Homo sapiens: one gene and its partners. The protein of the gene in region 2 interacts with the protein of the main gene of each other region in a biochemical or structural test. Each region holds a gene or a part of one and is shown on either strand. Other genes may lie near its edges. The genes, in order: KCNJ2, DLG1, FRMPD4 and ARHGEF26.

What was found.
Region 1: the proteins of DLG1 (region 2) and KCNJ2 form a complex in vitro, tested with the Homo sapiens proteins (2 studies listed by BioGRID and IntAct, with this or other methods).
Region 3: the proteins of DLG1 (region 2) and FRMPD4 interact in a test that uses a peptide from one of them, tested with the Homo sapiens proteins (2 studies listed by IntAct, with this or other methods).
Region 4: the proteins of DLG1 (region 2) and ARHGEF26 interact in a test that uses a peptide from one of them, tested with the Homo sapiens proteins (2 studies listed by BioGRID and IntAct, with this or other methods).

The regions. Positions count from the first base shown.
Region 1 is NC_000017.11:70,164,880-70,172,554, reverse strand, and holds the start of KCNJ2 (inward rectifier potassium channel 2), read right to left. Parts: upstream 3,024-7,675; 5' UTR 2,854-3,023; intron 1-2,853.
Region 2 is NC_000003.12:197,043,601-197,050,623, forward strand, and holds part of DLG1 (disks large homolog 1), read right to left. Parts: intron 1,130-7,023; coding exon 1,023-1,129; 3' UTR 1-1,022. UniProt on the Homo sapiens protein: Essential multidomain scaffolding protein required for normal development. Recruits channels, receptors and signaling molecules to discrete plasma membrane domains in polarized cells.
Region 3 is NC_000023.11:12,133,658-12,141,492, reverse strand, and holds the start of FRMPD4 (FERM and PDZ domain-containing protein 4), read right to left. Parts: upstream 3,021-7,835; 5' UTR 2,522-3,020; coding exon 2,481-2,521; intron 1-2,480. UniProt on the Homo sapiens protein: Positive regulator of dendritic spine morphogenesis and density. Required for the maintenance of excitatory synaptic transmission. Binds phosphatidylinositol 4,5-bisphosphate.
Region 4 is NC_000003.12:154,187,367-154,194,389, reverse strand, and holds part of ARHGEF26 (rho guanine nucleotide exchange factor 26), read right to left. Parts: intron 6,706-7,023; coding exon 6,553-6,705; intron 3,102-6,552; coding exon 2,972-3,101; intron 1-2,971. UniProt on the Homo sapiens protein: Activates RhoG GTPase by promoting the exchange of GDP by GTP. Required for the formation of membrane ruffles during macropinocytosis. Required for the formation of cup-like structures during trans-endothelial migration of leukocytes.

The DNA of each region.
Region 1 (7,675 bases), on a different chromosome or scaffold from region 2:
AATCTTGACCCCAGGACATTTGTTTGAATTCCACAAATCACACAATACCAGCTTCCTATGAATAGCTTTCCACATTTAGAATCTTGAAAGTAGCCTGTATTGAGAGACTATTATTGTCTTATTTCCATTGCTAATAACAGAATTTGTTCCACATGTGGAGCATCATTTAGAAATTTTACCATTTCTTCCTGGAAAGAGAAAAAGAGGAGTTTTGGGCTTTTTTTTTTTTTTTTTTTTTTTTTGGCAAAAAGAAAACTTTTGCCACTTTAAATAGATATGCCCCCAAACAGATTTATGTGTGTATGCAGGTGCACACACATATATGTATGCAGACTTTTTGTGGAGCTGATTACATAGCTAAAGTCTAGAACCTGTCAAGGTTTGATGGGGTAACGGTCTTAATATTTCATGGTAAAAATTGCTTTTACTGTTAACCTGCCCACATGCCTGAGCGACTTTAAGCAAGCAGAAAACTTCCTTGCCCGGTCCTCTCACTAGCAATTACCAATTCGTGAGCAGCTGAGAAAAGCTATCATTAAAAAAACAGGGCTTACATGCAACTTTATTTCAAGCATATATTCAAAATAATGTTTGAGATGCAATCAATGAGGAGTAGATGAGAACACTAAGTGATACAAATCCAGAGAATTGAAATTTGATTTGATGAACAATGTGTAAATCTCCCTTCCAGCCAAAATATTTAAGGGTCTAGATGTAAATTTCATGGACACAAATAATCATTTTTATCCAGGCCATAACCCATGATGTAGAAAGTATTTTTGGGAAATTGAGAGGTTACATGTGGTGCTGTTCATGTTAAGACTATTTATAGGCTGAGCCAAAATTAAGCATAAGCAATGGAAAAAAATAGTTCAGCGTTTTAAACTTAGGTAGATGTTAAAGGAGAAAGAGCTATGGATAAATGTAAGGTCAAGGAGATCACATGGTACAAATGGGGGATCTAAATTGCTTTGACTATATAGGTAATACTTCCAATATGGCTTATAAATAACTAAAAAAAAAAATCAAATGAGAGTAAATGTGTCCTGTAATATGGTCATGGTGTGCAATAAATAAGAAAGTTTCTAAGGATAGGAAATAAAGATAGCAAAAGAAAACGTACTGGGCTGAGAGAGAGGTCTGCTAATGAGTGTTTAGAGCAGCTATTCCCCAGCTGACGCCATATAGAACAGCCTGAGTGTGCTCTGGGCACATGTTGCTATGTGAGCACAACTGCTAGGAAAGCAGCCTCTTAGAAGCTCAATAAACATGAGGGAGGAGGAGGGGGAAGTGGGGAGGGGAGGGGGATACCCATCTATCTACGTGTGAGCCCCCTGTCTAACATTTATACTCAACGACACTTGGCTTGTAGCACTGCTCAGCATTTGCATACGCTGAAAAACAGACATGTTTGGTAAATAAAAATATACACTTAAAAAAATCTGAAACACTTAATCTGTGCAGGTAGCTGTTTTCAATCTTTCAGGCTACGCAAAAGTCATACAAGGACGCTACAGCTAACCAGAGATTCTACAACTCAGGAATCCAAAGGATGTAGAAAGACTGTGTTCTTTTATTTTTTTTAAAAGCAAAATTCACATGAGTTTAGATCAAATATTTCTTATGGAGACCAAGAACATTAAAAAATAAAGTGTCATTAAAATATGAGAGAGGAGGAAGCTAAGTAAAATGGCCTTGACCTTATCCTCACCCTTTCCACCATGCTTCAATTAACATCTCTTACCCCTTCTGAGCACCAGGATTTTTCCAGATAATGGCAAATAGAAATGAAACATTTGGAAGTGAGCAGGAAAACGCTAACAAGTGTACAGATAATGTACAGCAGACACACAACATTGGTTGGCGAGAGGAAATCTGGCAGCCTATTGATTATTAATGTGAAAAGAAAACAAATGATAAAACGCAATATGGTTTCTTTGCATATCCGAGGTTTTCAAATAACACCTTATTTCCTAACAGGTAAAATCTGAATTTATGAAAATCGTCGGAATTCACAGCCTTTTATCCTAGTGATCATCCTATGATATCCTTACCCAGACACAGACATTAAACTGCCCATTCCCTATCCCTATTTTTTTTCCAATTGTCATGATGAATCCACGCTATGATGCAATCTTTTTGCAGAATCAAGTCGTTTTGACTATTTTGCTTTCCTAAAACCACACTGTCTTCAAGCCAGGTATTAATACCATTATTACTGAAAATAACAAATTGGTTAGGGGAGAGTGATATGTAATGTGAAAGTTTTGCGATCCTCAGGCTCAAATCCAACTCGGGCTCCCGCTCTTCTTTCAGGAAGGCAACTTTGAGACACTCACTCTGTTTGAAACTCACAGCTATACTTGAAGCAATGACGAAAAAAAAAAAAAGCCAAGGATCAAGAATAGTGCTGAGTCCCAAGCTTTGCCAAGGTTTAAGACCAGGGCTCAAGACGCACCCCCAAACCCGCAACCACGTTTTCTTTCTTTTTTTCCCCACTTAGAGTGAGAACCGAACACAGACGCTCTCGCCCTTGCCTCCAAACCCAGTATCTCGCTACAGCTGGTGCATTGGAAGTTATGAGCACAAACAGATGCTGCAGAGAAATCTGTTTCTATTGCTCAACTGTTCCAAGCATGTCTCAGTATTTTTAGCTCTGGGGATGTTCTGGTGCGCACACAAACTATATAGGCATGATCTGGGACTCCGGAGTGTGGGTGAGCGCTACAGCAGTGTGACAGCTGGGCACCTCTGGAGCAGCGGGGCAGGGTAGGGTAGGGGACGGCGGCCAGAGTCCATTCCCCAGGACACACCGGCAGCGAGCGAAAAGGAAGAAAACACAGCAGCCCTTACCTGTTGCTGGCGCAGGAGCATGGGGACATGGAGTGGAAGTGGGGGGTACAGAGGCATGTAAGATCCAGTGGTTTGTAAAAAGCGAGTGAGCCAAAGCAAACCAGAATTCCCAAGACCCAGCCCGCCGGCGCCGGGAAGGCTGCGCGCTGGCCAGGGCTCCAGTGCGCTCTGCAATATCCTGGGCTCTTTTGAGGCGGTCCGTGCGACACCGGCTCTCCTGGCCCCGCCCCCGGCCGCTGCCGGCCAATCGCAGCGCGCCTGGCCGCGCGGCCGGCCCCGGGAACCGCGGCGGGGAGGGGAGGATGCTGCGAGGCGTTGCCAGCGGAGGGAACCTGCCGCCGCCTCGTCCCCCTCCACCCTCGGAGCCCGGCCGGGGAGTCGGGCCCGGGCCGGGGAGGAGGAAGTTGCGGCCCAGCTGGGACAGCAGCAGGTGGGAAGCTCCGCGCCCGGCTGTTGCGGCTGCCTGATTGCAGCCTGGCCTTGGGCAAAGCTTCCTACTCCGTCTGGAGCCCCACACACTTCCCGGTTCCCCCGCTCTTGGGCCGCTTGCCCTGCGTGCTCCTCGAGGGGCCTGCGAGGTGCCAGCGCCGGGTAGAGACCTTTGCCGCAGGGGCAGGATTGTTCGTCGGTCCCGGCGCGTCTCCCTCTCCACTCCCTCTCTGCCGGAGCCCCTCGGCCCTTCGAAGCCCCCCGCGGAGGCTGCAGCGCCCGGAGAAGCCACTGAGTCAATGGGGCGAGGGACTGGGGCGGGCGCGCAGAGCCCCCAGGATTGAGACGCGCGCAAGTGCGGCCACTGCAGCGCCGCTTGGCTGTTTGTTCTCCCGACTGTTCGCGAATTACTTACAAGGCGCCTAGGCTTCTCCGAAGGGTGGACGGCTCGTTCCCTCTCGCCTTGTCCGCCCTCAGTCTCTCCACCACCGCCCGGCACGCTTTGCTGATCTAAAATCAGAACAATTAGAGAGTAATGATTTTTTTTGGAATAGCAACTCCTACAGACACTCAGATCTGCCCTCGCTTCAGCGCCTCCCAGCCCTCCTTCCCAGCAGCCAGGCGAGAGCGCGCAGACCCCTAAAAAGCAACTTCAGTGTTAACCGGGTCTGGATCCTGGAACTTTATAAACTAATCCGTGTGTGTGTGTGTGTGTGTGTGTGTAAACCGAAGAGTAAGTGCCTATTATTTCTGAGTACTTCGGTGTCCTAACGAAGCTTTGCTCCTAAAGGACAGGATATATTTTAGGAGTCTTTCTTTCCACTGAGTTTTTTAAATGTTTATTTTCTCGAGCGATCAAATGTGTCTTTTGTGCAGTTTATTTAAACCTCGTAAGGCCTCCTTGAGTCGCTGAACTAATTCAGCAAACTAGCTGGTATTGTGGACGGCGCAGTCGGGGTGGATTTTTGTGTGTAGGAGAGGTGAAACTGACAATTCAAGGAAAGGTTCTGTGCGAGTCCCCACCTCCCATCCTCATATCCACACGTGGCCCCTAGGAGGTGCTGGTGAAATATGCTTGCTTAGGTTTCGCAGATCCGCACTTACTCCTGCCTTAACAAGTGTGCCTTTTTTCTTAGCACTGAGCAAGGTACTTAAATTAAAAGGGTGTGCAAGAGATGATGCACTCGGTGTGGCTGCTCTGATAGCCAAATGGCGATGTGGTCCCAGTTAATGTGTTGAGATTATACTGTTCACCAAGCCCTGTTACGAACTCTGTTGCCATGCACGTGGGAATAATGCCTGCCCCAAGGGAGGTCTTCTTTAACATCTATTTAGTCATGTGTTATTTATAAACAGCTTGAATTAATACTGTAAAATAGACGGATGTCTAAGAATCTAGGCTGTAGCCTAAAGCTAAATGAACCTGAGGGTAGACAAGTTCACTCTGTATTAACCAAAGGATAATGAATGAGTTCACCGCTCAGTTCAATAAGCTTCTTCTGAAATATGCTTCCTCCTGGACTTCTAAGAAACAGGCCAAAAGTTTAATTATCCCTTAAAACATGTTAAGCCTAAATAGAAAAAGGAAATTAATCATTTATAGATTTTCTCTTCTTTATTATGATTCAGTTGGTGCATCTGTAGATGGCTAAGAATTTTCCAAACCACGTGAATTCAGAGAGGCAACACTTTTGTTGTTGTTGTTTTTCCAGGTAATGAGCTCGCTTTGAAAACCAGTCACTCGGAAAGGGATGGCATTTTTATGCAACTTGGATTGAAATGGTTTTGCTTTAGTATTCTACTCTAATTAGAAAGAATACACCACAGGCCGAAATAGTTTCATATGATAGGAAAATCTTTAAAGAAAGGAACACAGAGTTATTAGATTATGGTTGGCTGTATAAATTTAGCTGGGCAGCGGGAGGAAGGTCATAATAAATGTATCCTGCTCTCTCTCATCAATTATCAGCAGCACATCCCCCAACATTCTCTCCTCCCAAAGACTGAAGGATGTGCAGCAAAGCTTAGATCTTGAAGGAGAAGGTTCGGGAAAAATTAATGATTTTAATTAGAACTTTCCAATCTAAGTAGAATCATTACCTTAATTAGCTAAATAAGGAAGTATGAAGGATGAAATTTTGCAAATGAAATTTTGTAAATGTATGGTAGCGTAGAATACCCCCATTGCTTCATTTTAAAAAAAGAAAATATAAATGCATTTTAATTAATAAATGACTTTTCATCATGTCCCTATTAGGAAAATTCTGTGTGCCAATGCTTTCAGTGTTTGATTTAATACATCTTTTGAAGTGATGCGTGATGCAGATTTCTGTATTCAGAGTCTATCTTTTTTGGCTGAATCAGGCCTTATTTAGCAAAAATCCCCATTAGTCTTGGACACGAATGCAATTGGGTGTTGGGATCCATCTGTGGATTAAATTTTTCCAAGGAAATGACAATTATGCTCTTACTGATTCTCTCCACGGTAACCACCTATAATATTAGAGCCAAATATTAGTCACAATCTGGATCTGCAGTCAGATTGTGAATAGCTGTGTGACGCAGAAGGTGATTGTTTCACTAGAAGCACAGATCTTTCCTTTGCATTTATATAAAGATCCCCAACAATTAGACATACTTTCAGACTTACATTAACCATGTATATGCAGTTCAAATTCACAATGGTAAAACATCAAACGCTCCTGGCATTTGTATCCACTGGATATTAAAAACCACTTTCTAATCTTCAAAGTAATCATCATTAGCAATAAATAGTAAATAAATCATTGTCAGATTGCCCGGAAATGTAGACAGGCTGAGTTTGCAATCTGCTGCTATGAGAACAAGCCACTTACTGTGGTATTTTAAGGCACTGTATGTAATCTTATTTATTGGAAAACAGTTTTGGCCTTTAGTTTCACTTACTGCATTGATAATATTTAATCTTCATATTTTTAAATTCAGTGAACGTATTTGTTGAAATAACTACGTTGTACTTTGGCTATATGCTAGGTGAGATGAAAGACAGAAGTGTCCTAGCGGGAGTAATTCCTCTTCTTAAGAGTTCAAAATGTCTAACTGAGAAGATGAACAAGGCAGAAGTGAAACATTTAAATGATTAAACAACAATATAAGGCAGCTTATGATTATGCACTAAAATGGATCAAGCAACAAATAAAACGATAATCTTAGATTTTGAAGAATGGAATGAAGCAGGGTAAGACTTTGTAATGGAAGATTTAATACATATGACATATTACTATGTGTAGTGGTATTAAGGATGCTGAGAACACGTCAGAAGATAGGAGTGGCTCCTCATTCAGTTAATTTCTTAAATGCCTGCTATGCCCCAGACCTTTCTATATACAGGTAATCAAGCATATGAATTATAAGTTGTTTCTAAGAATAAATGTCAGTTACATGGAAATGAATGAAAGGAACAGTATGTTTTAGTATAACTTTTGATGATTACTCAATATGATTATAATAAACATAAGCTATTTCATTTTTTACCTGCAATACAGTAGGCCTATCAGGTTACAGTAGAGCCTTTTCTCCTGCATTAAATGACCCTAGACTAAGCTTATTTAAGCCCTTCTGCTTGTTTTCCCTTCTCCATCAATGTGAGCCTTCCGTTCTCATTTTTGCTTCTGATAATGTGCCTTGAATCTGTCAGACTGTCACCATGCTCTGCCTAATTTGTTGATTCTAATCTGTGCTGGGCTGATAAATTATGTAACCAAGGTTGCTAAAGTAATGTACAAGCAAATATGATTTAACATATCTAAAGATGCATTTTTGAAATAGTATGAGCAGATGCTGAATTTGGAGTTACCTTCGCTTGGTCAACCTCCTTTTTGGGTAAAAAAGCTTCAGGATTTGGATTTATGGCATCTATTTTGCTTCTCAGAGCATTTAAATGGCTTAGTCTTTGTATTTGCTGTTATAAATAGCTGAGGAAAACTTCTGAGTAAGTGAGATACCCGCGTGTTTGCAACTATCCATATGTTTATATGTACACATAAAATCATGTACTGATGTATTGAGAAAATATTTCAGTGCTTACTTTATCCGTTTATTATTATGACCTTTATTTTCCATCAAATATGTTAAAACCAAAATCAATAAGTGGGGCTGTTCTTTAAGAAGCTCACACTTCCAGAGCCTCCATGTTATTATTTAGTAAATTACCTATTCTGTCATGCTCTGGAAGACTTCATTTATCTCACATGAGTGAGACAATTACACTCTGAAAATACCATATTCATTTTAGGGCCAGACCCTACATTACTATGTTTCTTGATTCAGTGATTACAATGATCATTTCATCTGTGTTTTCTGGGATACATTAGGTCTCCCAAAGGTAATGAGTTTACAGCCTCGGTTTACCCTC
Region 2 (7,023 bases):
GCAACTATGTAAAGAAAATAATTCCCATAGTTACAGTTTAAAGAAAGTTTTATATATATATTTATATATATTTTATTATAACAAAATAGGCAGCTATTGTGGGTAAAATATTCAGTAAAATCTGACTCCTAAGAATACATTTGAAGTTTTAGGCTATGAATTGGACTCCTTTCCATTGCCATGATGGTTACTACGTCACCACTGTAACGTCTGATTTATCTGTATTTATATCTAGGAAATTTTCTCAATCTTCTGTGTAAAAGGCGAACTTCCTTAGCACCTGAACATGGCCTCAATTCACGAAATGTGATGATCATTTACATATGAACAACTTTTGTAAGACACGATAGTGTTGCTCAAGTAGATTAAAAACATTGAAACGTTGTTATTCCTAGCAAATGTCCTGGGAAAAAAGAACCGTCAAATACTAAAAGGCTTTAAGAATGTTGAGGAAAAAATGAAATCCCTTATGAAAGTCAACTCAGACATGAATTTTTAAATTAAAAAATGTCCTTATTTATCTATAATGAAACAATTGCTTTGATGATAGAAGTTGATTGAGAAAAGGACTTGAGAGTAATACACTGGCCAAACCATGCTATTAAACTGAAGCGTGCACAGTTGCTCAAAGTCTACTAAATCACTGATTAAAACCACTTTTTCATTTGTACTGAAATTTGAAAAGAATGTATATAAAGCTTTTCCAAAAATCTCTTAAAGTTACTTTCCCTTAAACATTAAGGAATTTTACCACAATTTCTGCGTCTCCCCACGTTCTTAATAGCTGGTCAGGCCATTCCATCTTCAGTTCTGAAAAATGGCCACTAACCAATAGTGACATTAAATAATACACACGATGTAACTTGAAGGAGACACTACATGTGAAAAAGAAGCTGCAGACCATGATGTGTGGGATACAATTCAACATGAAATCAGTACTCAAGAAAGACTCCAGAGGAAAGGGCAAAGAGATGCCAAAGAAAATGGAATTGTGGAAAAGAGAAACAGAGAAACATGAGTTTTCATAGCTTTTCTTTTGCCGGAACCCAGATGTAAGAACCAGATTGTTCTTCTATGATCTGTTTCACTTGGTTGTAAATGTCTTCCAGCGTATCCCCCTGTACAATAGCTGTAATGATAGAAACAAAATCAGAAATCTCCATTAATTGTCTATTTTTGCCATTACAATTATTGATGAAATAGTAGAAGCTAGTATCTTTGAAAAAGTTACTCATCCAGGAAGAATCACCATTTACACACTGTTCACTTAGGAAAAAAGGCTCACTTCATTAATTTTCCTATTTATATAGTATAAAATTTTTATCTTAAAAATGGATCAAAAAGTAAGACTTGGAGATCTTTTCTTTTGTTCTTTTACCATCTGAGCATATATTAGCTTTATTATTTTAAAACAAATTATTTTCTTAACTTTCCTGATTTCTCCATAAACATATGTAGAAAAAAGGAAACTGGGTACAATCCCATAGACAGGATGATGTAAGGATAATTTTTTTTTTTTTTGGGGTAGGATCTTGGGGGAAAAGAGCTGATTACAGATTGATACTACTTTTTTCAGTTAAGCTAGCATGTCAGGTACTGTAGTGTAGGTGAATTGAGAGATACCTAAGCTAGCTTGTTAGTGGTTAGAGACTTAACAATCAATGTTTATTTGCTGTCTGAAATAATGTGTGAAAAAAAGAGTAACAATTACTAACAACTAATTCTTTGGGAATAGCTGAAGCCCCTGAGGTCTGTGAGGGATTAGTTAATAAAGCAAACAAACAAACAAAAACAAAGTATCGCTAGACAGCACTAAGCATGAGTAACTAACTTTTTAAGAAAGAAAGAAAATGTTTATGGTTGGGCATGGTGGCTCATGCCTGCAATCCTAGCACTTTGGGAGGCTGAAGTGGGAGGGTTGCTTGAGGCTAGGAGTTTGAGATCAGCCTGGGGAACATAGTGAGACCCTGTGTATTTAAAAAAAAAAAAAAATAGCTGGGCATGGTGGTGTGTGTCTGTAATCCTGGCTACTTGGGAGGCTGAGACAGGAGGATGATCTCTTGAGCCCAGGAGTTCACAACTGCAGTGAGCTATGATCGTACCATTGGATTGTACCATTTGCCTGGGTGACAGAGTGGAACCTTGTGTCTCGTAAAAAAGTTTACATATAAATGAAATAATTGAGAATTGCAAATTAAATAAGTCACTTACTAAACTACAAAAAAATGCCCAGTGATCTTGGAAGAGCATCATAGGTGTAGATTTCCATGGTCTGAAAAACTGAGCATAAAATGTCAAAGGGGGATTTTAAATAATACTGTCTATTTGGTACCTGAGATGATGTGCATAGAAGAAAGACGTTGTATGTAGGTAGGAAGCACTTATACATAGCTAGGAACGCCTGAATAACCAAGAATTTTCAGTAACATGATATTCGCTAGTATCAGTTTTGTGAGACTTCTACCTTTTGAGCTAAATGCAGACATGCCTCAATGTCCCTGAAGACTCAGTTCATTTGACAAAATACTTGGTTCGTGGGTTTGGCATCTTGATGCACCCCAACAGCACAGGACAGAATCCCAGAGCATTTCATAGTTTAGGTTGACAACAGCACGCAAGGATTTATTTTAGAGCATTTCATAGTTTAGGTTGACAACAGCACGCAAGGATTTATTTTAGGAGAAAACAGTCAGGAACTGACTTGGGAAATATACATTTTGCTTACTTTGTAAATTCATTAATGGAATGGTTAGTAAACCAGGGAAACTGGGAAAGCATAAGGCTGCAGACACCTTAACCATGTGATTAAAATTAGCATCATAAGTAACGGCACAAGTAGACTTTGTAAACCTCCTTGCATGATACACAGAGGACACATCATTACTTCATTGCTATTCCTGCCCCAAATGCAGAACCTAAATCGAATTATGAGAAAACATCAGATAAATCCAAATTGAGGGAGGGACATTTTATAAAAGAATGGGTCTTTGGCCGGGTGCAGTGGCTCACGCCTGTAGTCCCACCACTTTGGGAGGTCAAGGTGAAGGTGGGCGGATTGGATGAGTTTGAGACCAGCCTGGGCAACATGGCGAAATCCTGTCTCTACAAAAAATACAAAAATTAGCTGGGCATGTTGGCTGTAGCCTGTAGTCCCAGCTCCTTGGGAGGCTGAGGTGGGAGGATCACTTGAGCCTGGGAGGTGGAGGTTCCAGTGAACTGAGATCGCACCATTGCACTCCAGCCTGGGTGACAGAGTGAGACCCTGGCTCAAAAAAAAACAAAAGACAAAAAACAAAACGAAACAAAAAACAAAACGAAACAAAAAACAACAAAAAATCCCCCCTAGTGTTTTTACTCTTAAAAAATGTCAGTCAGGGTCATGAATAACAAGACTTGGGAACGATTTCAGATTAAAGAACATTAAGGATGTGATAATCCAATACAGCACGTGAGCCTCCGCTGGATCCTGCACCAGAACAGAAAAACCATTTTTTTCCATTTTGCTCTAAAGAGATTAGAAGAATAGTGAAATACTAATAAGATCTATAGTTAGATGAGACATATAATTATTAAATTTCCTGATTTTGATAATAAAACTATGATTCTATAAGGGAATATCCCTGTTTTTTAGAAAATACACACTGAAATATTTAGAAGTAAAGGGACATCTACCTGAAACTTACTCTCAAGTGTATCAGAAAAAAACCTATAAATGTGGTAAAATGTTAACACTTGAGGAATTTGGGTGAAGGGTACATGAAACTCCCTGTACTATTCTTGTAACTTCTATTTAAGTCTGAAATTAGTTTGAAAAAAATAAGAAAGCACAAGGTTTAAAAACCATGACCCTTACTGATACTCAGTGTGAATGTCAAATTTAGGCTGATATTATTTCAAACAAACAAGTAACAACAACAAAAATGTCCAAAGACTTGAGGAGGAAGTTAAAGGACAAGGCGAGTAAAATAAGAATATTGGGGAGTTGCTACCTACTTTTTTTTTTTTTAAACAAATAGTATTTCAAAACGGATCAAAGGGCAACTAATCATTAAAAAGGGGCCAAGACTACACAATAGGGAAAGGCTAGTGTCTTAAATAAATGGTGCTGGAAAATCTGGATATCCACATGCAAGAGAACGAAACTAAACCCTTATCTTATACAAAATTAACTTGAAATAGACTAAAGACTTAAATGTAAAACCAGAACCATAAAACTCCTAGAAGAAAACACAGGGAAAAAAGCGCCTTCACACTGGTCTTGGATGATTTTTTGGAAAGCACAGGCAGCAAAATAAAAAATCATCAAGTGGGATATTAAATAAAAAATCTACACAGCAAAGGAACAATCAACAAAATGAAAAGGCAACCTATGGAAGAGGAGAAAATATTTCCAAACATGCAATTGGTAAGGGGTTAATATCCAAAATATATAAGAAAATCATTAGCAAAATACCAAATAATCCATTTAAAAAATGGGCAAAGGACTGGAATCGACATTTTTCCAAAGAAGACATACAGATGGCCAGCAGGTATCAGTAAAAGTGCTCAACCTCATTAATCAGAGCAACAGAAACCAAAACCATAATGAGGCTGGGTGCAGTGGCTCACGCCTGCCATCCTAACACTTTGGGAGGCTGAGACGGGCAGATCACTTGAGGCCAGGAGTTTGAGACCAGTCTGACCAACATGGCAAAACCCTGTCTCTACTAAAAATACAAAAATTAGCCGGGTGTGGTGGCATGTGCCTGTAATCCCAGCTATTCAGGAGGCTGAGGCATGAGAATCGCTTGAACCCAGGAGGCAGAGGTTGCAGTGAGCTGAGATCATGCCACTGTACTCCAGCCTGGGTGACAGAGCAAGACTCTGTCACAAACACACACGCAAACCATAATGAAATATCACCTTAGACCTGTGTGGATGGCTGTTATCAAAAAGATAAGAGATAACAAGTAGGCAATGGTATGAAGAAAAGGGAACCCTGTACACTGTTGGTGGGAATGTAAATGAGTAAAGCCATCACAGAAAATAGTGTGGACATTCCTCAAGAAATTATTATTACTATTATTATTTTTGAGACAGAGTTTCACTCTTGTTGCCCAGGCTGGAGTGCAATTGTGCGATCTTGGCTCACTGCAACCTCCGCTTCCCAGGTTCAAGCAATTCTCCTGCCTCAACCTTCCAAGTAGTTGGGATTACAGGCATGCACCACCACGCCCGGCTAATTTTGTATTTTTAGTAGAGAAAAGGGGTTTCGCCATGTTGGTCAGGCTGGTCTCGGACTCCTGACCTCAGGGGACCTGCCCACCTGGGCCTCCAAAAATGCTGGGATTACAGGCATGAACCACTGTGCCCAGCCACCTCAAAAAATTAAAAACTGAGTTATTATATGATCTAGCAATCCCACTACTCGATATATATACAAAGGAAAGGAAATTGGGCCAGGCGTGGTGGCTCACACCTGTAATTCCAGCACTCTGGGAGGCTGAAGCAGGCGGATCACTTGAGGTCAGGAGTTTGAGACCAGCACGGCCAACCCTGTAACCCTGTCTCTACTAAAAATACAAAAATTAGCTGGGTGTGGTGGCATGTGCCTCTAGTCCCTGCTACTTGGGAGGCTAAGGCAGGAGAATCAACAGAACCCAGGAGGCGATGGTTGCAGCAAGCTGAGATCACACCCGCATTCCAGCCTGGACAACAGAGTGAGACTCTGTCTCAAAACAAAACAATAAAAAACAAAAAGCCAACAACAACAAAAAGAAAACCAAAGGAAAATAAATCAGTATGTTGAAATCTGCACTCCTATGTTCACTGCAACATAATCAACAATAGCCCAGATATGAAAATCACCTAAGAGTCTGTCAAAAGATGAATGAGCCGGGCCCGATGGCTCACGCCTGTAGTCCCGGCACTTTGGGAGGCCAAGGCGGGCGGATCACCTGAGGTCAAGAGTTCGACTAGCCTGACCAACATGGGGAAACCCCATCTCTACTAAAAATACAAAATTAGCTGGGCATGGTGGCACATGCCTGTAATCCCAGCTACTCAGGAGGCTGAGGCAGGAGAATCGCTTGAACCCGGGAGGTTGTGGTGAGCTGAGATCATGCCATTGCACTCCAGCCTGGGCAGCAAGAGCAAAACTCCATCTCCAAAAACAAAAAAGATGAATGAATAAAGAGAATATTGTAGGCCAGGTGCAGTGCACCTATAATCCAAGCACTCTGGGAGGCCGAGGAAGAACGATTGCTTGAGCCTAGGAGTTTGAGACCAGCCTAGGCAACATAGCGAGACCCTGTCTCTACAAAAATAAAAAATTAGCCAGGTGTGGTGTTGCACGCCTGTAGTCCCAGCTACTAAGGAAGCTGAAGAGAGAGAATTGCTTGAGCCCAGGAGGTTGAGGCTGCAGTGAGCCATGATCATGACACTGTACTCCAGCCTGGGCAAGAACAAAACCCTGCCTCAAAAACAAACAAACAAAACCAAAAACAGGCCGGGCACGGTGGCTCACGCCTGTAATCCCAGCAATTTGGGAGGCCGAGTCGGGTGGATCACGAGGTCAGGAGATCAAGACCGTCCTGGCTAACATGGTGAAACCCCATCTCTACTAAAAATACAAAAAATTAGCTGGGCGTGGTGGCAGCTGCCTGTAGTCCCAGCTACTCGGGAGGCTGAGGCAGGAGAATGGCGTGAACACGGAAGGCGGAGGTTGCAGTGAGCCGAGATTGCGCCACTGCACTCCAGCCTGGGCGACAGAGCCAGACTCCATTTCAAAAAAAAACAACAACAAAAAAAACCCCCAAAAAAACCCAACAACAAACAACAACAAATATATATATATATGTATGTATGTATGCATGCATATGGTATATATACAACAATGGAATATTTTATTAGGCCATAAAAATGAAAATCCTATCATCTGCAACAACCAACATGAGTGAATGTGGAGGACCTTATGCTATATGAAATAAGCCAGACACAGAAAAGCAAATACTGTATTTCATTTATACGTGGAATCTAAAAAAG
Region 3 (7,835 bases), on a different chromosome or scaffold from region 2:
GACACTCTAAAAAGTCAAAATATGCAGTTTATTTATTCCAGTGTCGAATAATATTCTCTTGGAATTCTCTGTAATTACACTGTCTTTACTCACAGATAGGACACTAAGCAAATATCACTTCCAAGATATGCCTTCTGAATTAACATTTAGAAGCTCAAGTTTGTAGGAACCAAAGGTAAGGCCAGGTACCCAGGGTAACTACATGTGTTTGCCTCTAAACCAAGAGAATTTTAAGCACTGAAGTAACCATGCTGATCAAAGCTAAATCCTTTAGGAAGATTATCCATTCTGAAATCAGGAAAATCCTGCAGTATAAGCACTTTCATACTTCACCTTTGAGAAAAGAACTTGCTTTCTGTAACAGTGTTTAAAACACATACAAGACTTTCTTCCTCCCAAGGCAGAAACAAGCAACTGCAAACATGTGTTTTTACATGCTGATGACCCTCTAAAGGTACTTCTATCTCAGCACGGGGACCATCCTCGGGCTCACACTAAAGAAAAAGAAGAATTCTATGGATGGAAGATTTCTTAATCGGCACATCAGCTCAGAACATTTGCACCTTCTGTCTTTAGAATAAACACTCTACTGGATCACATTAAGGATAGAAAGTGAAACTCACACTCATTTACTAAATTTTAAACTCTCTTTAAAATAAGATACCACTCTCCCCACAGCCTTGCTTGAGTTTTGCAAAAACTCAGATTTGTGAATATCATGTAGGCATCCTAGAATTTAGTAAAAAGAATATGAAACATCTTTTCACTGACACATGACACTGTCCTCTCCAAAGTTCCTAAGTTTAAGGACTAAATCGAGGCTCTAGATGTTTTGTTAAACTGTTTTTAGCATCTGAGGCCACCAAAAAGTATCCTGGTTACTTTGAACTATACTATTGGTTGAACTTCCCTTTCCCTTTAGCAGTATCTCTGTCCATCACACGGAGGGTACCACTTAGCCTCTAAACTTGCACACAGCTGCTTCCCAACCATGGTTCAATATTTGACAGCTGTTTAGAAACTAGCCCTAGGCAGAAGCATGCAGGAAGTTAATAGAATAGTGGTGTGAAGCAATGGCCCTCTATGAGATCAGCTTGAAAGCAAACAATTGGCCACACCACAATCATCCACTGCTTAACACATCAGTCTTCTGATCTGCAGGACAACACCTCTTCCTGAGCTGCTCTAAGACACAGGTATTTACCCATCAACTGCGTATCTCCAGTCTACTTAGAGTAAGCTGCACTGGGCCTTTCTGCCTGGGGAAATCTGCTAGTGGCATGAAGACTGACCCATGTTAGTAGAAAGGGAAGGTGGAGATGGGCAGGCAGAACAAAGACCTGTAGATGTCGGAGAGAATGGCAACATCCAAACAGAACCTTTCTGAAGTGGTCTAATGTAATTTAATAAAGCAAAGTCAACATACGTTTCTACCTCTGACTATTGGAAGCTGCTCATCCCTGCCTGATGCAATCAACACATCTCACTCTGACACTCAGGACTGAAGGAAAACCTGGGATTATTCTGTCCATATTGCAAGTAAGTTTTTAAGCTACATCCTGGAAAAACCCAACTGTCTACCTCCTACGTCCTGGTGGTAGCTGCTATAAAGAGCTCCAGGGGCAGAGAAGGTTGGGCATGGTTTTCTAAGACCACTCCTATTGGGCTCTTCCCAATTAATGCCACATAGCAAGCAGCACAAACCTTACTCTGTGGCTCAAACGAAGACTTTGGAAGCATAAGCAGGGCAGAAGACCTGGAGGAGTGCTCTGGCCAGGCAACACCTAGGCGGCCCAAGCGTGGAAATGTTCCTCTTTTATCAGTACTACCCAAAAATGTCTGAATCGATGATTTAGTTTTAGCTACTGTTTTAACAACATGGCCACTTAGAAGAAAATTTCTAAATCTTTCGAGGCTTAAGAATATAGTTACCCCCCCCCCAAAAAAAAAAAGGCTGAAAGTCTTTCTCTTCTATCTACATGACTTCGCCATCTAGGTTACCGTTGGGAGCACCTGGTCAATCTAGGAGCTGACTTTGTGGAGGTGTGGAGGTGTAATTTAGGAGTTGGGGGAAGGCGGCACTTTTGGTCTTTGCAGCTTGGAAGGCAGGCACCCAAGCTCCAAGCACTTCTGGGTTTCCCTAGCAGTAGCAATTACAACCATCTTCTCTTAGCCCTGAATTATACATGGGACCCCAAACACCGCTGGGGCTTTTCCTTAGGGAAAACAAACTGTCGTGAATGTCGGTGTGTTGGTGAGGGCATGTATGTACCTCTCTGTGTGTGGTCTACACCCGCCGCTACACAAGCCTCAGCAGCCAGTGAGAAATAAGTTGAACGTGGAAGCCCCCGGCCACTTCGTTTGTCTTAAGCCCCGTCGCGCTTTCCAGCTTTTGCCTCTACCCAGCCTCCCGAAAAATAAGGCACCAAGTTGCCCGCGGCAGCGGCCCTGGGTGCAAACGGAACCCGCGCAGCCCCTACCTCGAAAGCTTTGCAATCTTCACAAAGCTGAAGACATCCATGCAGGCAGCTGGGGACCCCCGAGCGCGACAACTCCGTCGCCCCTTCTCACGCCAGCAACAGCAGCCTCCGCAGCCCCATGGCCAAGACCTCAGTGCGCCCGGGGCTCGAGTCGCGGCGACAGCGGGTGGCGGCGGCGGCCGGAGAGAACCTGCACCTGGAGGCGGCGGCTGCTACCCCCCTCCGGCCGCGAGCTGCGTGTGCATCCCCGAGCAGGACCATTGATAGGCACCCGAGGCAGGAAAACTCAATGGAGAGGGAGCCAGGCAGGGCGCAAGAGGCGGGGGCGGGGAGCGCGGCCCGGGTCTCGCGCCCCGCCCCGTGCGCTCTAGCCCCGGGGACTGCCGGGCGTCCAGAGAAAGCGAGGCCTGGGCGAGAGGCGCTGCTCTGGCTTCCCGGCCCTCGGACCCTCGTGCCCCACGCACCGAGGAGCGCAGACGGAGCCGGGAGACGGCAGGCGAGCTGGGCACACGCGCACGCACCCCTCGCAGCACTGCAGCTGCCTCCCTGCCTCCTTCTCCAAGCCGAGTCCCTGCTCCTCTCCCCACCCCCACCCGCCCGGGGGGAGGGGGCACTCTCCTGTCACCCACTGCGTGTGCCTCTAGATCTGAAGGATCTGGTCTAACAGTCTATGGCACACTGGAGAACTGTGAACGCTACCCCTCCCTCCCCAAGCCGAAGGAGAGCCGTGCAACCGCAGGTTGCTCAAAGCCTCGGTTTGCTCCGTAAACAAAACTAGCGTTCGGAAGGAGCAGGGATGATTGAGGTTGGGTCGTTTGTCAAGGGGAAGGGAAGGGAGATGCCAGGCGCAGCGGGCTCGATTCGGGGAGCTCAGAGTTCCCACTGCTTCTCCCGAATCGCTGGGGCGAGACGTGACCACTGGGCTGGCTGGGAAGGTGTGTCTTTGGACAGCAGCACCGCGGGAGTGTCTGCCAAATAAGAACCGGAGGCATTTGCGGGTAGGGGGATGAACACAGCTGCTCCCTCCTCGAGGAGCATAGAGCGGAGGGTCCCAGGAGCCCGTGATGCGGAGGCTAATTCTAACCGGGCTCAGAATCTAAGGAAAGAGAAGGATTAGAATGGGGTCTGCCACGCAGAGCGAGCTGCTTTTGCACACTGAGCCTTGGGTGAAGGGAACAGGGAAGAAAAAAACAAAACAAAACAAAACCTTGCCGGAGAAGCAAAAACACAGAAACATAAACACTCACCTTAGGCAGAGTAAACTCCAAGTTGCAGCCATCTAGAACTCCTCCTAGCCTTCTCTTTTACATAATTACCTTGGATAATCAGCCCTGTTCATTAACTCAGTTCTACCTCCTGGGAGGCTCAGGCTTCATTGGGCCCCTTTTTCTTCTTCCTCTTGAAGTCTCAAGGCCTCTTCTCCACAATCCTTTAAAATTTCCCCCCAGACTGTGAAGGTCAGCTGGCCGCACTAAGTGTGTGCTCTCCCACCGGCAGCGTTCACCTGGCGGCAGGGCCACCGCAAAGAACAGAGAGCACCCCCAGAAATGTTGGAAGATCCAGCCAGTGTTCCAGTCTAGCTCTCCGAGGGGATTAAGAAAGAAATAGGTTTAAAGTTCCCACACTTCTGCTCCTCTCCTGGTCTGTTGTTATATTTAAAGTCTTCAGTATTCAAGCCTAGTACTAAAGCGTTTTTTTTAAGCATTTATTTCAAAAACTGAACATAAAATAAATAGCAATCTGCAAAATCTAAATGACTTAAAACTCAGGCATAAAATTACATGTTTTTGAATACATAGTTATCAGTTTTCCTGCAGCTTCTATTAAACAGGCTAGTTTAATTGCATGAACGCAGTTACTACTCAAGGATCGGAAGGGGCGAGAGGGACCTTGGCTTTTGAACTCTATTGTTTGTAAAATAATTATAGTTTGGGTCTGCACTGTGCTTTATAATTTTTAAAGCTTTTTTTTGCATTGGAGTCTCATCGCAACCTTTTCATATAAGGCAATATATTTAGAAATCTTTTATTTTTATGCCATAATCTATTCTCAACATACCAGACAAAAAGATGTTTTGTGTGTGTGTATGTGTGTGTGTGTGTGTGTGTGTGTGTGTGTGTGTTTTAACGTAGATCACATAAGGCTACTTGTCTGATCTAAAATATGTAAAAGCTCCCCATTGTCCGTCAAGCTAAAGTTGCGCTCCTGCAAGGGCCAACAGGACCCTAGATCCCGTATCCTTTGATCTTTCTTACCTCAACTATTACTGCCCACTTCCCTCTCCCGTTTTTCTCTGTCCCTCCTCATCCCCTACCCCGAGCCCCTCCTCTCTCACACACATACACTCACTGGGCTCCAGCAATTCTGGACTTCTTGCTATCCTTCAAACTCTACAGGTAATCTTCCCACCTTAGGCTCTTTGCAATGGTTGTTCCCTCAGCCTGGAATGCTCTTTCCTGGGATATCTGCATGGCCGGCTTCTCCACCCTGTCAAATGTATGCACCAATACCACTTCCAAAATGCCCCCTCTAGAAAGCCAATTTAAAATTGCAAAAGGTTCTCACACCCTGGACTCCGAGTCCCTATTAACTGTTTTATTCTTTTTTCTTGTTTCCATAGCATTTATCACCCACTAGCACACTATATAATTTATTTTTATCTTTAGGATTTCTTTTTTTTTTTTTTGGTCTGAATCTCCCACTGGAGCTCCACAAGGGCTGGGATCTTTGTTTTGTTTTGCTTTTGTTTTTCACTGATGGATCTCAAATGCCTAGACCACTTCCCCAGATGTAGAAAGAACTTAAGAAATATTTGTTGAACGAACAAATCATATGCCCATTGGATTCACAGCCAAACCAAAGCTGGCCAAGCATCCCCAGTGAGTACTGATCTGTGTATGACTTCGTGGCTTACATCTGTCTCTTTCCCCACCCATCCACTTCCCCAGCATCCTTCAACCTCCTTTGGACTGACTGTTAATGATGGCAACAAAGGCCTTCTTACATTCTCCAGTTATTTTCCCCCTTCACCTTTTCTACCTTTCCCCCAAAAGAGTGGCCACCGACACGTTCCCTCATCTCTGAGTCAACATCTGGCAGCACAAGACCAGCTCGTGATTGGGAAAAGGGGATAAAACAGTGCCTTTGGAGAATGTGTTTTGAAAAAGTGCTTCCTTCTGAGAAGAGAACAGTTGGGATGCTCTTTTTAAAAGGATTACCCTATTTATCAATAATTATTCCAGATACCAAATATCTAATTATTCAACAGTGAAAGTGACAGGAAATAGACATTGTGTTTACTTCTAGAGAGACAGCCTCCCTTGGAGACATCTGGTCTACCTGGAACAGCTTGCTGTTGGCCTTCTCCCTGTGCCAATTTGTGCGCTACGGTTATGAATGATGCAGATGCCATCTCTCCACAGCATAATAGCTACCAAGGGAAATGACTGACTTCTACAGGTCTTTACACACCTCTCATATAGTAATTATCTAGTATGTTTTCTAATGGATTGATATTGTTTTCTAAAGCAAAGAGATTCCACCCCTCCTCCTTTGTTTCTCATTAATACAACAATGGAAAAAGCTGCTCCCTTGAAACATGCTAACACAGAGTGTTTATATCTTTAAGCCATCTTGGCAGAAGGGCAGAGATTGGAGTAGTTGGTCTCTCAGCTCTGTCCCCTCTCTGTGCCAGGTGTGTGCTGCAGAGGTTAGGATAGGTTTGTCTAGCATGAACTAGATCTGCCTAAAACAAATAAAAGCCAAAAAAGTGGGATCCTGAGTACATATGTGGTTTTCTGAAGTTTTCTTATTAACCTGGATGATCTCTAAGGCCCCTTCTGGATCTTGTAGGGATTTACTAGTTGGAAACTGTATTATCCAACCTTGAGAATCTACTTAATTTGCTTTACTTAGGTTCAAGTGACATTTGGTCATTTCTGAAAACCAGACACACTTTCAAACACTGTTGAAAGTACTCATGAATAAAAGACTCAGGGTCACCAGATCCAGAGCAAGTCCTATAACTTCTCTGAGACTCAGTTTCCTCAGCTGTAAAATGGAAATAATACATCTTTACCTTACACAAAATGAGCACTTGAAGTTGGCACCAGTTTACAGTTGGCTACATATGAGTTGAGGCACATGAATATTAGCTCTAGAAGGATTTCCACAGCTGTCTGCAGCCTTGGCAGTACTGGTAGGAAAAGTTTCAGCCTGTAAGATGACTATTTAGGAGGCCCAACATTCGCTTGGATTAATCAGAGGTAGGCACTTTTGCCTAAAAATCAAACACTTTGTTGCCTGGGCAGTTACTAAAGCCCTAGGCTGTAGCATTTTTTATGCCCCGGGGGATTCTCAGGGGGAAGTGTGAGGAGCTTCATCATTCTTAAGGCCTTATCTAAAGCTGGTGTTAGGAATCTGCTATTGGGCCAGATGTTCCATATAGGTTGGCAGCTGAGGGTTCTTTCGCTGCAAGTTACAATAGAGAGAGCCCCAAGCATTTCTCAGCTGGACTGAAGCATCTCGACCATCTGGTCTCAGTCCTGAAAACAGAAGTAAATAAATAACAGCAAGGTATCCATTCAATCAGCAAATATTTATGGAGTGTCTCCCATGTACCAGGCACCACTGTAGGCACTGGGAAATAGACTAGGCAACAAGGCAAGTTTCTGTTCTCATAGAACTTATGAAGAGGAGGTAGATGATAAACAACAAAATCAGAAATTGTAGTGAACAAGAAAATAGCAGATAGCAATGTGCAGAGAATTAAAATTCTTCTGATGGAAAGGGAGTGGCTAGGTGGCTATTTGTTATTCAGTGGTTCAGGAAGACTTCTATAAGGAGGTGACATTTAAACTGAGATATGAAGAACAAGAAGGAGGCTGCCACACAAAATTCATATGGAAGAGCATTCCATGCAGACGGAACGGCAAGGATAAAACAAGGATGGAGTCCTTGAGGCAGGAACGATGATTGTATGTTTGAAGAATCCGAAGGCAGCCACTGTGACTGAAGAGTAACGCGTTAAATGAAGTGAGAGTGAGCGAATTTGCAGGGGCAAGAAGGGTGAGATCACATGGGGCACAGTAGGCCAGTGTCAGCTGTCTGGCTGGTATGAGACGGGAAGCCATGTGAGGATTTTTAGCATGGAAGTGGCCAAATCTGACTTATGTTTTGAATGACCACTCTTGAGGGAAGTGAGTGTGAGGGCAGGGAAACTACTGATTTAGGAGCCTGTTGCAAGAATCCAGGCAAGAGCTGGCAGCAGCTCAGAGAGGACATGACAAGGAGGTGGTGAAAAGTAGCCAGGCTCAGGATATGTTTTGAATAGGAACAGTTGATGGGTTAGATGTA
Region 4 (7,023 bases), about 43 Mb from region 2:
GCCCTTACTAGTTATCAAATCTTGAGCAAGTCACTAACTCTATCTTTATAAGCCTCTCTTTCCTCATCTGTAAAACTGGGGTGATGCCAGCTACATCACAAGGTTGTTAGAAGTGTTAATGATAATTTATGTAAAGTTCTTTATTAGTGCCTGGCATAGGGTATGCCCTCAATAAATAAGAGTTACTTTAATTATCACCATTATAATCATTATTATTAGAGGCAATTATATTTATAGATGATACATTTTGAATAAAAAGAACAGCCAGGCACAGTGGCTCATGTCTGTAATCCCAGCACTTTGGAAAGCCAAGGCAGGCAGAATACTTGAGTCCAGGAGCCAGGGCAATATGGAAAAACCCCATCTCTACAAAAATACTAAAAGAAAATTAGCCAGGCATGGTGGTGTGCACCTGTGGTCCCAGCTACTCAGGAGGCTAAGGTGGGAGGGTCACTTGAGCCTGGGAGGTGGAGGTTGCAGCGAGCCGAGATCGCACCATTGCACTCCTGGGTGACAGCATCTCAAAGAAAAAACAGTCAAAAAAAAACCCAAAAAAACCAGCAAAGGAAAAAAAGCCTGCTAGGTTTTCTGTTGATATATTTATACTGAGAAATTTCATTTGTGATAGGAAAATCAGGTCAAACAGGGTCAATTCACGGTAAATTTAATTACATATAACTTTAAAGCTATACACACACATTCAAAGCCCAGGGAACCACTTTAATTACTGAAAGTGTTTATTTTAATGAACAAGCTTAACTGAATTTCCAAATGAGGTAAAATTGAAGAGACACTATTTTAAATACATTTACATTCTGCCTAAATGGCCAGATTTCCACACATGAGAAACAGATTAGAGCAACAGGCATCAGGCAGAGGTAGAAAGTAGTTGGCTACTAGCAAGTCACTGGTCCCTTAAATGTACAGAAGCACCAAGCCAAGCCATCTGAAAGTCAGGCATCAAGATTTTTAACTATCTGCTATGTGAGAAACACAGAGTGCACCATCTGTGGAGGTTCTTATATTTTTTGACTATGACTCACTGTAAGAAATACTTTTACACTGCAACCAGCACACATGCACACATAAATGAACCAGGATTTTATGAAACAATATTTAACCACTTTATGAGCAACGTACATATGCTCATAATTCAAAAATCAGTTTTATGGCCCACTAATGGGTATGAAAGCAGCATGAAAAATACTGGTTTATGTCCCTGAGAGCAGGCATCCTTAGCTGGATTCCATATATTGATATTTTATGTAAAATTTTGTGCATACACATATTCTCTGGGAAGAAAAGCTATAGCTTTACTCAGAATCTCAAGGGGGGGTCTGTGGCTTAAAAAAAGTTTAAAGCCTACTGAGCAATCATGGCATGAATCTCCAACACTGTATAACATAATGTGTTAGATTTTAGAGTCCCATTCCATACAAGTAATTTTCTCAAATTTAAAGAGGATATAAAAGGCTTGGCCATCACAGCATATATAAAATCTGGAAAACATGTTTAAAATGCATTTTATTTATTTTTGTTCTTTTATTTCAATTCTCAAAGAGGAATAAAATGCATTTTCAGAAGAAGAAAACCCTGAAAATTCAAAAGTCTAATATTACAAGAAATGTTGTATTTACAAGGCATTCACTTCTTGCTTAAAAAAATAGTCATGTTTGAAATAATACTTCCTTATATGGACCAAAGTTTCCTTCTTAAGCAAAAATTCGATTCTGATAACTTAGCCACATTCTATCTTTAAACATGATAAATACTGATCTCAAAAAAAAATCAGAAAGTGAAATGTTCAAAACTGCAAGCTTCCCAATATGTACACAGGGGGGAAGTTCCTGAATTACAGGTGATGGGTGGAGAAGGTGTAAAGGCAGTAGATCGAAGTAAACTTGAGGAGCACAAGGTGCTATGAATCCTGAAATACCTGACAAAACGTCTCCAAAACTGCAGCAGTCAGCTAAATGCTCATGATTCCATGCTTTTACACATTTCAAAATTTCAGCATTTTTAAAGAATGTATTTTAGAATTTACAATGGGATACAGAATGTGAAATTTACTTTGTAACCTTAATCATAATTTTTAATATATATTTTACTTTGTTTTGATTAGTCAAAATCAGGTATGTAAAAAGTTGACCTTATATCAACATTATGATCCAATTTTAAAGTAGGAAAATCATAACAAAATATTTTCTAATTAGATCAAAAAGACACTCTGTGATCCACTGCTAGAATGGCACCTGTGTCGAGCCACCCCACTTTTCTCTTTTGCTGCCCCAGCAGCTCCAGTGCAGCCAGTGGCAGGCTCTCCTGCCCATAGCCTACCTGTCTTTCCAGCTGCACGTACTACTAGGCAGACTCTACTCACTTTTCCCAGTCATGTCTTGCCGTGATTCAAAGTCAAAAACACTTGCTTTCCTCATGAATGCTGCCTAACACAAGAAGGAAGCTGGGCTTTCCTCACTCACTTCGCACAATGCATAATACAGGCAGTACTATGCCTTGTCATGCTGAAGAGACTCTCATTCCTGTATGAAATGGAAGGCCCAGGGCACCTTGGAACATTATAGATGAAGGGATCTCAGTGATCAGTCTGAGGAATCTTAGGCCCAAAGAGACTGAGTTGCTCAAGGTCACATGCCTAATGGCTTAGCTAGAATTGGAATCCAGGCCTCCTGACATAAAGAAGCCACAACTCTTCCTATTTCAAAAAATGCTGAGTAAGTGGGTGATGAGATCCAATTTCTTCAGAATGACCATAGAAGCCTAAATGAAAGATAATTTCCAGAGATATCAGATACAGGTGAGACTTTCTGAACAAACAACACCTTCTCACTTAATTGGGGGATTTTTAGACCTTTAAATATGCATCAATTTAAGTGGAATAATAATAATTTTCTAAATCAGATTTAGAGAAGCACAGCTATCCACAGAGGAAAAAGCCACCGTCATGTCTTACATCCATCAGCAGGGGAAGGCGGGTCACCCTCTGCATGGGGAGAATGAGAAAAGAGATCATGGGTAAGTTCCTACAGTCTTCATGGGACTCAATCCTTGACAATACTTCCTTAAAGGATGGATTGGTAGCTCTGAGGGAAAACAAAGAAAAGAGAAACTTCAAAATATTTCCTCCTCAAATTAAGCAGCAAGTAAAAATGTATTACAAAATACTGTGATAAATCCATATAGCATCAACTATTTTAAACTGTATGAAAATATCATAAGCACATAATTACACTGGCAAATACGAATGGCTTGTCTGCCTTTTATATTCAAGGCTGAATATAATAAGATGTGGATTTCACATAACAGTATTAACAATAAGGCAAAACATGTAGGAGCTAGAAATTTATACAAGTGGAAGGTAAGCAAATGAAGAAGCTGTGGTATCATAATGGTGAATATATGGGTCATAAATCAGTATACAGACTAGGTCTTTTATATCCGATCATCTATAAACATATATCATTAATAAGATCATAAATAATATGTTTTAAGCCACTTCTCCAGCCCTAGACAATGGCATAAGAAATTAACAGTTAGACTGGACTTCAGAGGCTTTAGGCCACAAAGATCCTCTTTCTGAGACAGAAAACCTTTTCATCACATCAGTCGAAATATTCCTCTTTTTCTCCTGTTAATGCAAGAAAAGTATTAATGCTGCTATAACATTTTAATGAAACTTAGCGAGATACTGTGACATACATTCTTTCATGTGGAACCACCTACGTAACTTTTAAGGAAGGCCAGATAGGGATTCCAGTAAGAAAATGGAATGCAGAAAGGTCCCTACCTCACCAAGTAAATATGACTTAGTAACTGCCAAAGACAGAAGTCAAACCCAGGTTTGTTTGTTTGTTTGTTTGTTTTGAGATGGAGTCTTGCTCTATCACCTAGGCTGGAGTGCAATGGCACAATCTCGGCTCACTGCAGCCTCTGCCTCCCAGGTTCAAGCAATTCTATGCCTCAGCCTCACAAGTAACTGGGATTACAGGTGTGTGCCATGACGCCCAGCTAATTTTTGTATCTTTAGTAGAGAAAAGGTTTCATGTTGGCCAGGGTAGTCTCGAACTCCTGGCCTCAAGTAATCCACCTGCCTCGGCCTCCCAAAGTGGTGGGATTACAGGCGTGAGCCACTGTGCCTGGCCTCAAACCCAAGTTTTCTAATGTTAAATCTGACACTCTTGTCCCCCCATTTCTCACTCTCTTACCTCACTTCATCCCATGAGGAGCTCTGTAGAGTTCCACTGCCACTTTCCAAGGCAAGGAGGGTAGGAGGTAGATGGATATTGTACTCCCATGAAGGGAGAAGGAAGCAGGATAGTGACAATAGCAGTCATTTTTTTTAAAAAAAATGTTATTTTGAAAATTAAATAATCTTGTTCAAGGCTGCTACTAAAAGCAGGGAGGGGGAGAATGCCAGAATAGCAAATGAAAAGAAATTATACAGAAACAATTCATTTCCATTTTCTCTAATTGAGAAGTTTTAAGTTTCCTTTTACTGATAGCTTTGACAAGATTTTTAGAAAGTTAAAAAAAAAAAACAAAAACCTCTAAATTAGTTGTATATTTAAATAACTCAGGTCCCAGTCCCCTCCCTCACCTTCCAAAGGTTCTGATTAAATAGTCTGGGATGGACTCTGGACAGTGTACATTTGCTCATTTTCAGGCCCCAAGGCATTTCTAACATGCAGCTAGAATTGAAAGCCACTGTTCTAACCTTAAATTCACATAAACTGCGGGCTGGGCGCAGTGGCTTACGCGTGTAATCCCAGCACTTTGGGAGGCAGAGACAGGTGGATCACGAGGTCAGGAGATCAAGACCATCCTGGCTAATACGGTGAAACCCAGTCTCTACTAAAAATACAAAAAATTAACTGGGTGTGGTGGCATGCACTTGTAGTCCCAGCTACACGGGAGGCTGAGGCAGGAGAATCGCTTGAACCTGGGATGCAGAAGTTGCAGTGACCCAAGATTGCGCCACTGCACTCCAGCCTGGGTGACAGAGTGAGACTCCATCTCAAAAAAAAAAAAAAAAAAAAATCACATCAACTGCAACAAATCCCCTGAAAACACTACTAATTGCCACGTGAAAGTGCTGATGATGTTATCATTAAGCTAATTTAGATAAAACCTTTAAGAGTCACATGATGTATAGCAGTACCTAGTGACATTTTTTAAATCCTGCAAAACAAAATGAAACCCAAATTTATCTCTAATTCAAGGCTTTGTTTTCAGACATGAACTTGCATTCTCTAACAGTTACAGAGAACCTCTGTTCCTATAGCAGCGGTTCCCACCAGGGCGTGGTGGAGTGAGGAAGTGATGGGTGTGGTTTTACCCTCAGGGGACCTTCTGCAATGTCTGGGGAGATTTTTGGCATCTAGCAGATGGAAGCCAGGGATGCCCTTAAGCATCTTAAAATGCATAGGACAGCCCACCACAAAGACTTATCCAGTCCAAAATGTCAATTGTGCGAACAAACCCTGCTTTATACTAAAAATCTCATTGGGGTTAGCAGCTGTGTGTTTTCCACCCTGGCTATATGAAAATGTCATGAAGATGTGGAGGAAAAAGGGGGCCATCATCAGCCCTTCTCATCAGCTTAGAGGCTTTGACTATTTCTCCAAGCAGCCATAAGTTAGTCATCCTCAACCCCTACTCCTCCATAGGGGTCTCACATATTGCACAGAAGTTGACCGAAGCTCCATGCCGTGGTCATAAATGCCACAACTCACAGGAGGGGGTGAGAACGATAACAGCCATTAAGCTCCCAAACTGGGTTTACAGCAGTGCACAACTGTGCTGTAAAACAGCTACTTGTGATAAACAGGACTCTTTAAAATACATATAGGCATTACTGAACAATTGGTGACTCTTTTAAGGACACAGATGGCATATGCATCACATCAAAACTCTCAGTAACCTAAAAAGGACAAAAAGAAAAGATGTGGCAGGAAATCTAATGCTTAACTCTTTTGCTGCATAACTGAAATCTTTAAGAACATTACTTTTTTCTACTGCTTTCCTTCAGAACTTCCCTCCTCTCTTCAACTCTAACTACCCAAGTGGGGGGAATAATCAGCAATTTTTATGAACAATTTATTATCGTTGTCAATTGAATGGAGGGAGATCAGAATAGTAGAGAAAACTCTGAATCTTAGCTTTTAGCTCAATCAACTCAAGAATCCCCTCTAAGCCTCAGGAAAACCACTTAATTGCCAGTAAAAAGCTTAGAAAACTGCGGGTTTAGAGTGAGGACCACCTCTGTTTCCTGCAACAATTAAAAACAACGAAACACTAAACAAGGACATCAATAACAAGCTATAATTTCGTAAGAGAGAAAATTCTCTACACACTAGATTTTTCTACTTAAACACCCTCACCCTAAAAGTAATGCTCTTAAACATTTCTCCTCTGGGAAATAGCCTATCAGGAGGCATTTCTAAATATAATTCAAAAGATCAATTAATTTCAGTCAATGTAGCCTAATTAAAACTAGGTTAGATGATTAAAACTGTAGCATTCGACATTGCTTACAACAATTTTTGTAGTGTTCGTTGTTGGTAGACTTCATTTGTGCAGTATTTCACATATGGGTCAAATGTGGATGCTGTGTGTTTTTCCACAATGTCACTTATGTCATCTATGAAGATATTATTCTGATGTCTTGCTTCCAACTCTATAAAGAACCTGAAAAACCAAAGGGAAAAAAAAATTAACACTTCTTTCATACACTCTAACAGATAACAGATTAGCCTCATGTAATGTTATTACACGGGGTTTGAAAATTCAACAGTACACAGTACCAACTAAAAAATATTTTTAAAATCTATAAAAATTTTATCTAAGTTTAAATCTATCATATTAACACCTCCTTGAGGATGAGCATTGTGGCTCACGCCTATAATCTCAGCACTTTGGGAGGCTGAGGCAGGAAGATCACTTGAGGCCAGGAGTTCAAGACAAGACAAAACCAAAAAAAAAAAAAAAAAAATCAAGTTATTGCTT